Linked DNA regions of Homo sapiens. The protein of the gene in region 1 purifies or fractionates together with the protein of each later gene. This does not show direct contact. Each region holds a gene or a part of one and is shown on either strand. Other genes may lie near its edges.

The links.
Region 2: the proteins of SDR16C5 (region 1) and HK3 purify together in Homo sapiens (affinity purification with mass spectrometry; one large-scale study listed by BioGRID and IntAct). This does not show direct contact.

Annotation. Positions count from the first base shown.
Region 1 is NC_000008.11:56,317,281-56,321,691, reverse strand, and holds the start of SDR16C5 (epidermal retinol dehydrogenase 2), read left to right. Parts: upstream 1-1,516; 5' UTR 1,517-1,633; intron 1,634-4,411. UniProt on the Homo sapiens protein: Oxidoreductase with strong preference for NAD. Active in both the oxidative and reductive directions. Oxidizes all-trans-retinol in all-trans-retinaldehyde.
Region 2 is NC_000005.10:176,885,847-176,889,655, reverse strand, and holds part of HK3 (hexokinase-3), read left to right. Parts: coding exon 1-11; intron 12-91; coding exon 92-275; intron 276-791; coding exon 792-947; intron 948-1,090; coding exon 1,091-1,324; intron 1,325-1,909; coding exon 1,910-2,205; intron 2,206-2,318; coding exon 2,319-2,455; intron 2,456-2,534; coding exon 2,535-2,654; intron 2,655-3,758; coding exon of another isoform or gene 3,759-3,809. UniProt on the Homo sapiens protein: Catalyzes the phosphorylation of hexose, such as D-glucose and D-fructose, to hexose 6-phosphate (D-glucose 6-phosphate and D-fructose 6-phosphate, respectively).

The DNA.
Region 1 (4,411 bases):
GTGACAGCCTAGGATTCTGCTCAGAGAAGCCATGAAGATAATAGGAGGCTGGTGTTTCCCAGTGTCCACTCATCTGAACTCTTGCAGGCAGGCTGCACCATCAAGGGCCCATTACCCGACGTCTCTCTGCCTCAGTCCACTCTCACTCCCAGGTGCTGCTCACCTCCACACCTTAGCCCATTCTGGAAGGCCCTTTGAGTCCAACTGCCTCTCCTCCTGCAGGCTGGTTGTGGACTCTGGAAGCACCTGGGGTGCATGTCTATCACCCGCACTGTTTATGAATGTGTCTCCCTTCTCCCTCAGAAGCCCTGCAACTCCCCAGAGCCCCACACAGCAGTGTCGCTGTGTGGTGACGGCTGACTTGAAACCAATGCACGCACATTTACCCACTCACCTTCCCACACGCCTCGCATAGCTTGCCACAGCTCGCTGCTGCTGCCTAAAGCACACAAGTAACCTCTTAAGTACTGAAAAGACAGTCGAGGGTTTCCCCTGCACCTACTTTTCCAAGCTTATACGACCTGCCTGTTTCTTCTGTCACCCAAATAAAGAACAAATGTGCAGTTCCTCTACTCCAGACCTGTCCCAGATATGGGCTGGCTAAGGCTGCTCTTCGACCCCTCACCACTTTTCCTGTCCTACTCAGCCCCGGGATAAATTTCAAACCCAATCTCATCATGACTCCCCTGTTTTTCTTTCAACATCCCATAATTTATTGTCATTTCTGCCCCTCATTGCCCCCAGAAAAGTTCACCCTCTATTATTAGCATCTCAGTGGTGTCTTGTGCTTATATTAACTCTTTTATTGATTTATTAATGAATGTTTTTCCTTTTTTTTTTTCTTGACAGATATATCATCGCTGTTATCTTCTGGATCGCTGTACACCCAGATGCTTAATATATCTTGATTGGGTCAGAGTGCCTGGTGACTCTTACGCTAGCCTCATTTCTCGGCTTCATCTTGTTAGAACAAATTTCCTCGCCCTCTTCTCCTAGGCCGCCTGCCAGCGCCGCACCCACTCCTGCCCCTGCCTGCACCCCACCCACTTCCCGGGGACTTCCGAGCCCACGCCCACATCCTTTACCTCCAAGGGGCAAGGAAGCTGTTGACTTAAGATCCCATGTGGAGCAGTCAGATGCTGCTGGAGAACTCCCCGCACTGCAGGCTCCAGACACACGACCTGGCCCCTCCCCCGTGGACGCCTATACTGCTCTGTTCTCTAATTCCAGGGTTCCCAACCTCGGGGTTGTGCCTTGCAAATACCTGGGAAACTTTTCTAGCTAATGCCTAGGCCCCTACCAACCCAGAAATTCCCATCTAATAATCTAGGGTACAGCCTAGGCATTGAAACGTTAAGCCTAAGAGAAATCCGGCGCACGCATCCAGTTTCCACCACCGAATTTCCAGCTTCTTAAATCTGCAGGTCCAGAAAAAGAAGATGGGAGTGCTGCCCACGTCGCGCACTGGGGCTACGGCCGGCCCCACCCCTGGCGCTGCCGCGGCAGTCCCGCCCTTGGACTTGGGCGGCGCCTGGATAAACACCTGAACCTGACTGAGCTCCGAGCCAGGGACTCGGGTGCCTGGGGCAGACGAGGCCGGCTTCTCCGCGGACAGCTAGGGAGAGTGTCCTGGGTAAGTTGCCGAGGTCGTCGGTCCTGGGTGCTGGCTCCCGGAGGAGGTCGCGCTGGCGGGGGTCGGGCGAGGCCGCCCTTTGGGCTGGTTTCACGCTGGGTCGCTCGCAAGGGGGCGCGGGTCGCCGAGCCGCGGCAGGACCCACCCGCGAGCTGGTGAGAAAGCAGCTGCACCGGGTAGCGCACGGCTGAGCGTCCCAGAAGCCCGGGCTCCCGTGGCTACGGCTAACGCAGACCCCTCGCCCCCGGGGGTGAGCTGCCAGCCTCCCTCCCCACCCGGAGCAGAGGGCAGGATGCCTCCCCGGACCCTCTTCTTCGGTCCGTTCTGCCCAGGTTCCCTGCTCTCTGCTGCTCAGTGCATCCACCTTCCGGGTGGATATCAACCCCCATATCACCCCTTTCAACCCAAGCTGTGATTGTCAGTCTGTCTGCCCTCCCGTTTCGTCCGGGTGCCCTCACCAGAGCCGACTTGCTGCCGCGCACTGGTATGGGAAGCCGAGGGCGCCTGTTTGGATTGGGTAGGCCGCGAGATAGGGACACCTAGAAGACTTCTGCCAGATTAAATTGTATACGCTCCGTAACATTCTAGGAAAGTCTTTGCAGTAAAATGGAACCGTACATTCACTCTTGTTTGTAAGTATACTATAACCATATTTAATTGATATAGCCAGGGATTATTAATTCATATGCTTAACAGGACCAGTGGAAGTTCTAGCCATTAATTATTTTGCTGTCATTCTGTGCCTGGCACTGTTCTAGAAAGGCCTCCATGTTTTATGGCTGTGCCACATTATTATGGGGATTGAGGAGCAGAGGGGGAGACATGTAAGCTGGCAGGTGTTGAAATCCAAACAGCTCCTCTTGCACCCCCTCCCCAACCCCTTGCACCCCGCAGAGGACTTTGTGCAGGGCAATGCCTTTTTTTTTTTTTTTTTCTAATTTGTTCGAAGGTTTCACACAAGCTAGTAGTGACCACATAATGCTCCTTAAAACTTTACCTATATAAACTGGTTTAATTCTCACAGCTCCTCTGTGTGGTAAGTATTCCTATGCACTATTAGAAACTCCCTTTTTAGAGGAGGAAACTGAGGCACAAGAGATTAAATCATTTCTACCAAAGTTGCAGGGAAAATCAGTGATATATCTGGAATTCCAACCCAAACTTTAATCTCTAGACCTCATTGCCTGTGTGGGTACCCAGCAGGCACCCTAAACTTCAACTGGGGAAGGGAGGTAACTCAGGCTGACAAGCTCTTAGAAATCTAGTAAGCATCTGCCAAGACAGGGTTAAAAGATGGACATATTTTAGGTCTTGCATCAAGCCAACATTGAGACAGTGGAACACTGAAATCTAGAATGTCCTGACATTAAGAGCGTTCATGTCACCCAGGTCAATGTTGAGACTTCTGGCCACTGCTGAGGTGCTGGAGCCCTGTGATGGGAGAAGTAGACCTCTGTCCCTCTATGTGAATTCACATAGTGATATAAAAGGGAATGTGGTGGTCTGACCAACTACTCCTGGTGTGGATTTTCCAAAGTTGGCGACGCCCAGGCTGCTGTCTGAGAAGGGCGCCTAGGGTTTCCCATTACTGTGTGCACAGTCTGACCCTCATCCTTGCAGATCCACAGGTACAGGCTCCATGTATTTGATATGAGAGTCCTCTTTCAGGACACCTTTTCAAGTTCTGCAGTGCCTGAGAGGCCTGATCAATCATTCAAAAGTTACTCTGTGAATGTAAATCAGAGCAAAGATCACAGAGAGTTTGAGGTCTATTTCATCAAAGCATGGATGAAAACGTTCTTCATTTGACCAGAGCATCCATGTTCCTTAGAGCAAACATTCTTATTCTCTGGACAGCCCTGGACACACAGGTCAAACCTGCCTTAAAACAAACTATTTTGTCCCTCTGCCAGGAAAGCTACTGCTCAATATCCCTACCTCCCACCATCATCATTTGGATATCCACTCAAAGGGTCACTTTCCAGCAGACATCTGTTGCTTCCTCTCCCAAGCCCAATCTGAATCAGCTCTCCGATCATCCTCTCCATAGCACACTGCACTTTTCTTTATAACACTATGGCTTATAACGATCTGTTTATTTGTTGAATACGTCTCTTCAACTAGATTACTTGGCTCACCTGCACAGAGATTATGAGAGGCTGCCCATCCCCTCAGCCCCAGTGCCCAGATAGAACCAGCACAGGGTGGATACTCAATAAACATAACACATGAACCAATCTGGCCCTCACCAGCTAACCAGCACAGGGACCCTGAACAAGTCACATACATCTTCTCTTCGATCCTCAGTCTCATCTGTACAATAAGCCAGGAACAACAGCCTGGGTTGCATCGACTCTCGACATTTCCTAAGGGTGTGACCACATACCAAGTCCTCCTGTAGATGAATCTATCCACCCTTACTCATTAACCGCAACTAGGCTGACTTCAGCCAAACTGTGAAGACCTGCTCTTTTTTCATTACTCCCCTCCTGTCTCCTCACACCTGTGCCTTTGTCTGAGCCTCTCAATTAAACACCCCATTCAGAGAAGGCTCCCACCCCCAGCACAGTATGCTGTCTGCTAAATATGTCTTCTGTTCCCATCCTGAAGGAAATAAGACCTTCCCTTCTTTCTCAGCTAGTGGTTAGTAAAGCACACCTTATATATTCATTCACACTAAAGTGTGAGTAACTGGTAGCAGGATGTAAGCACTAAGCTCTGTATGAGTTTGTCAAGGGGAGGCCTTTTATTCATTCAGCAGACCTAGTGGATGCCTTC
Region 2 (3,809 bases), on another chromosome or scaffold:
GCTAGTTGTAGGTGAGCCATGGACCATTTGTGATGACAGGTGGAGGGTGTGCTGCCTGGCTAGCAGGCCTTGACAGGGTTGTCTCTGCCAGACACGGGCACCAACGCGTGTTACATGGAGGAGGCACGGCATGTGGCAGTGCTGGACGAAGACCGGGGCCGCGTCTGCGTCAGCGTCGAGTGGGGCTCCTTCAGCGATGATGGGGCGCTGGGACCAGTGCTGACCACCTTCGACCATACCCTGGACCATGAGTCCCTGAATCCTGGTGCTCAGAGGTGACCTGGCAGGGGGCCCTGACCTTTGGTTCCAGGCCCTGTCTATGACTGCTCTGCTCCCAACCCCTTCTGTCCCTGTTCTCAGGCCCTTAGGCCCCTCCCTGTCACTCTGAGGGTCTCCAGGGAGCAACCTGGGGGCCCTGGCCAGGTTCAAAGAAGGAAGGGCCCAAAGTTCTAGAATCCAGAATTGTCAACCCTTGATCTTCCCTGTTCCTGACTCTGGCCTGCCCTGACAGTTTGGGGGTTGAGGGCTGGAAGTGGTTGAGCAAACTGCTCTCTGCCTTCCTTTGGGTCCTTCTTGTTCTCCAGGAGGCTTCTGAATGTAACCTATGTCAGAGGGGGCAGTGGGGTCTGGGCATACACCCACCTGTCCTCTGGGAGGCTATTCGTTGCTTCTGGAGTCTCCAGTTTGGGAGCCCCAAAGAAAAGAATCCTTCTTTGGGAACTCTTGGAGGTAGGGCCAGGTGGACTGAGGGCTTAGAAAAGGCTTCCTCCAGCCACCCTTCCCCCCTGCAGGTTTGAGAAGATGATCGGAGGCCTGTACCTGGGTGAGCTGGTGCGGCTGGTGCTGGCTCACTTGGCCCGGTGTGGGGTCCTCTTTGGTGGCTGCACCTCCCCTGCCCTGCTGAGCCAAGGCAGCATCCTCCTGGAACACGTGGCTGAGATGGAGGAGTGAGTCGGGGAGATGGTGGTTTAGTGGGGGATTCTTGGCTTGGAGGAAGGGGATGATACTCTGTTCCCAAGGTAGCCATGGGGCTTTAGTGGGATGGGGAGCTTCTGGGCTGAGCCCCAAACCACTTCCCTTTCCCCTCCAGCCCCTCTACTGGGGCAGCCCGTGTCCATGCTATCCTGCAGGACTTGGGCCTGAGCCCTGGGGCTTCGGATGTTGAGCTTGTGCAGCACGTCTGTGCGGCCGTGTGCACGCGGGCTGCCCAGCTCTGTGCTGCCGCCCTGGCCGCTGTTCTCTCCTGCCTCCAGCACAGCCGGGAGCAACAAACACTCCAGGTTGCTGTGGCCACCGGAGGCCGAGTGTGTGAGCGGCACCCCAGGTATTGTGGAAACGTGATCCGCATGATTAGTTGGCATGAACACGTGTGTGTGATACACACCCAGAGGGCCCTCTGGGATCACATGTGCAAGCCAGTGGACACGAAGGGCACTTAGGCAGAGGGAGGGCCAGACTGAGCTATGGGAGGCCAGAAGACATCCAAGGAGAGAAACGATGCTTCCCTTTGTGTGTGCAAGGGTGGAGGCCATGGCGACACGGGGGCGTATGGCTGGTGCACAGAACAGATTTCAAATTGAAGTGATAGGGGAGGCTGGCTATGGTGGTACACGCCTGTAATCTCAACACTGGGAGGCTGAGGTGGGAGGATCATTGGAGCCTGGGAGTTTGAGGTTACAGTAAGCCATGATCACTCCGTGGCACTCTAGCTTGGGTGAGAGAGCAAGACTCGATATCTACAAAAATAAAAAAAAAAAAGTGATGGGGCCTTGGGCTTCAGGAGGCCCTAGGGGTCTGGGGCCAAGCTGGGCACACCTGTATGTATCTGGGGGTCCAGGGCCAAGCCGTGCACACCTGTGTGTGTCTGGGGGTCCAGGGCCAAGCCGGGTGCACCTGTATGTATCTGTAGGTTCTGCAGCGTCCTGCAGGGGACAGTGATGCTCCTGGCCCCGGAATGCGATGTCTCCTTAATCCCCTCTGTGGATGGTGGTGGCCGGGGAGTGGCGATGGTGACTGCCGTGGCTGCCCGTCTGGCTGCCCACCGGCGCCTGCTGGAGGAGACCCTGGCCCCATTCCGGTTGAACCATGATCAACTGGCTGCGGTTCAGGCACAGATGCGGAAGGCCATGGCCAAGGGGCTCCGAGGGGAGGCCTCCTCCCTTCGCATGCTGCCCACTTTCGTCCGGGCCACCCCTGACGGCAGCGGTAAGGACCTGGCCTGAGTGTGGGACCGAAACATGGGCTCCTGGGGGTCCCAGTGTGTGCTGGGGCTGGAGCCACAAGCCCTATCCCGGCACTGAGGGTCTCTGCCCCCACAGAGCGAGGGGATTTCCTGGCCCTGGACCTCGGGGGCACGAACTTCCGTGTCCTCCTGGTACGTGTGACCACAGGCGTGCAGATCACCAGCGAGATCTACTCCATTCCCGAGACTGTGGCCCAGGGTTCTGGGCAGCAGGTACCCACAGCCTGAACCTTGATGTCAGAGGTGGGGAAGGGCTGAGCAGTGCCTACGCCTGACCTGTCCTGCCCCACAGCTCTTTGACCACATCGTGGACTGCATCGTGGACTTCCAGCAGAAGCAGGGCCTGAGCGGGCAGAGCCTCCCACTGGGTTTTACCTTCTCCTTCCCATGTAGGCAGCTTGGCCTAGACCAGGTGAGGGAGGGCCAAGAGAAGTGATTCCCAAGGGCCTCCTGCCCCCACATACCCTTCATGGAGTGGGCAGGAGGCAGGGGAAAAGGCTGGGCGGTGGCGGGTCTGGGGTTGGTGGTGGTGGCAGCACTGCTGGGCTGGGCTTGCACACAGCCTCAGTTTCCCCAGACAGGGTAGGCCCAGGGTTAGGGTCTGAACCATTTGGGAGCAGGTCAGGCCTAGACTGGGGCTGATCAGAGGACAGATCGTCCATTTTAGCTATAGCACTGGTGTGTGGGCCTCAGGGTCCTGCAGGAACCAGCATTTGTTCCTGTCTCTAGCAGGGGCTTGAGGTCGCTTGGGGTTTTTTTGGCCTCTCTCCTCCTCCTTTCTTTGTTTCCTTCTCAGTGCCTGGCTCAGTGTTGGGTGCATGACTAGGGTGGCAGAGTGCCAGGCACAGGCTAAGACACACATCCCTACTCAGCACACACTTTAGCTTGTTCTTACACAAGGATGAGGGACTTCTCAATGTGCACACCGGAAGCCTGTCACGGAAACAATACCTCCCGGGCCTCTGGTCCAAACTCCCAGGAATCTCCCTTTCAACATACCCAACTTCTGCTTGAAAGCCTCTTGCCAAGGAGCTCACTGCCCCTGAAGGCAACAGTTGCATTCTTAGACACCTGTGATCAATGAAAAGCTTCATCTCACCTACTCCAACCAGCCTCCATGTGATTTTCACCCCCTGCTCCTGCTCTGACCTCTCTCTGATATGCAACTCATTTTTTTTTTTGAGATGAAGTCTCACTCTGTCGCCCAGGTTGGAGTGCAATGGCATGATCTTGGCTCACTCACTGCAGCCTCCACCTCCTGTGTTCAAGCAATCCTCCTGCCTCAGCCTCCCAAGTAGCTGGGACTACAGGCACATGCCAACACGCCCAGCTCATTTTTAGTAGAGATGGGGTTTCACCATGTTGGCCAGGCTGATCTAGAAATCCTGATCTCAGGTGATCCGCTCACCTCAGCCTCTCAAAGTTCTGGGATTACAGGCGTGAGCCACCGCACTCCACCTGATATGCAACTCTGTACTCTGCTTTCTTTTACACGGTGGTCCTTTGGATGGTGCAGTGGGCCAGTCTTGCTGCTTGGCTGCTCTGCTCCAGGCTAAGCCTGCTCAGT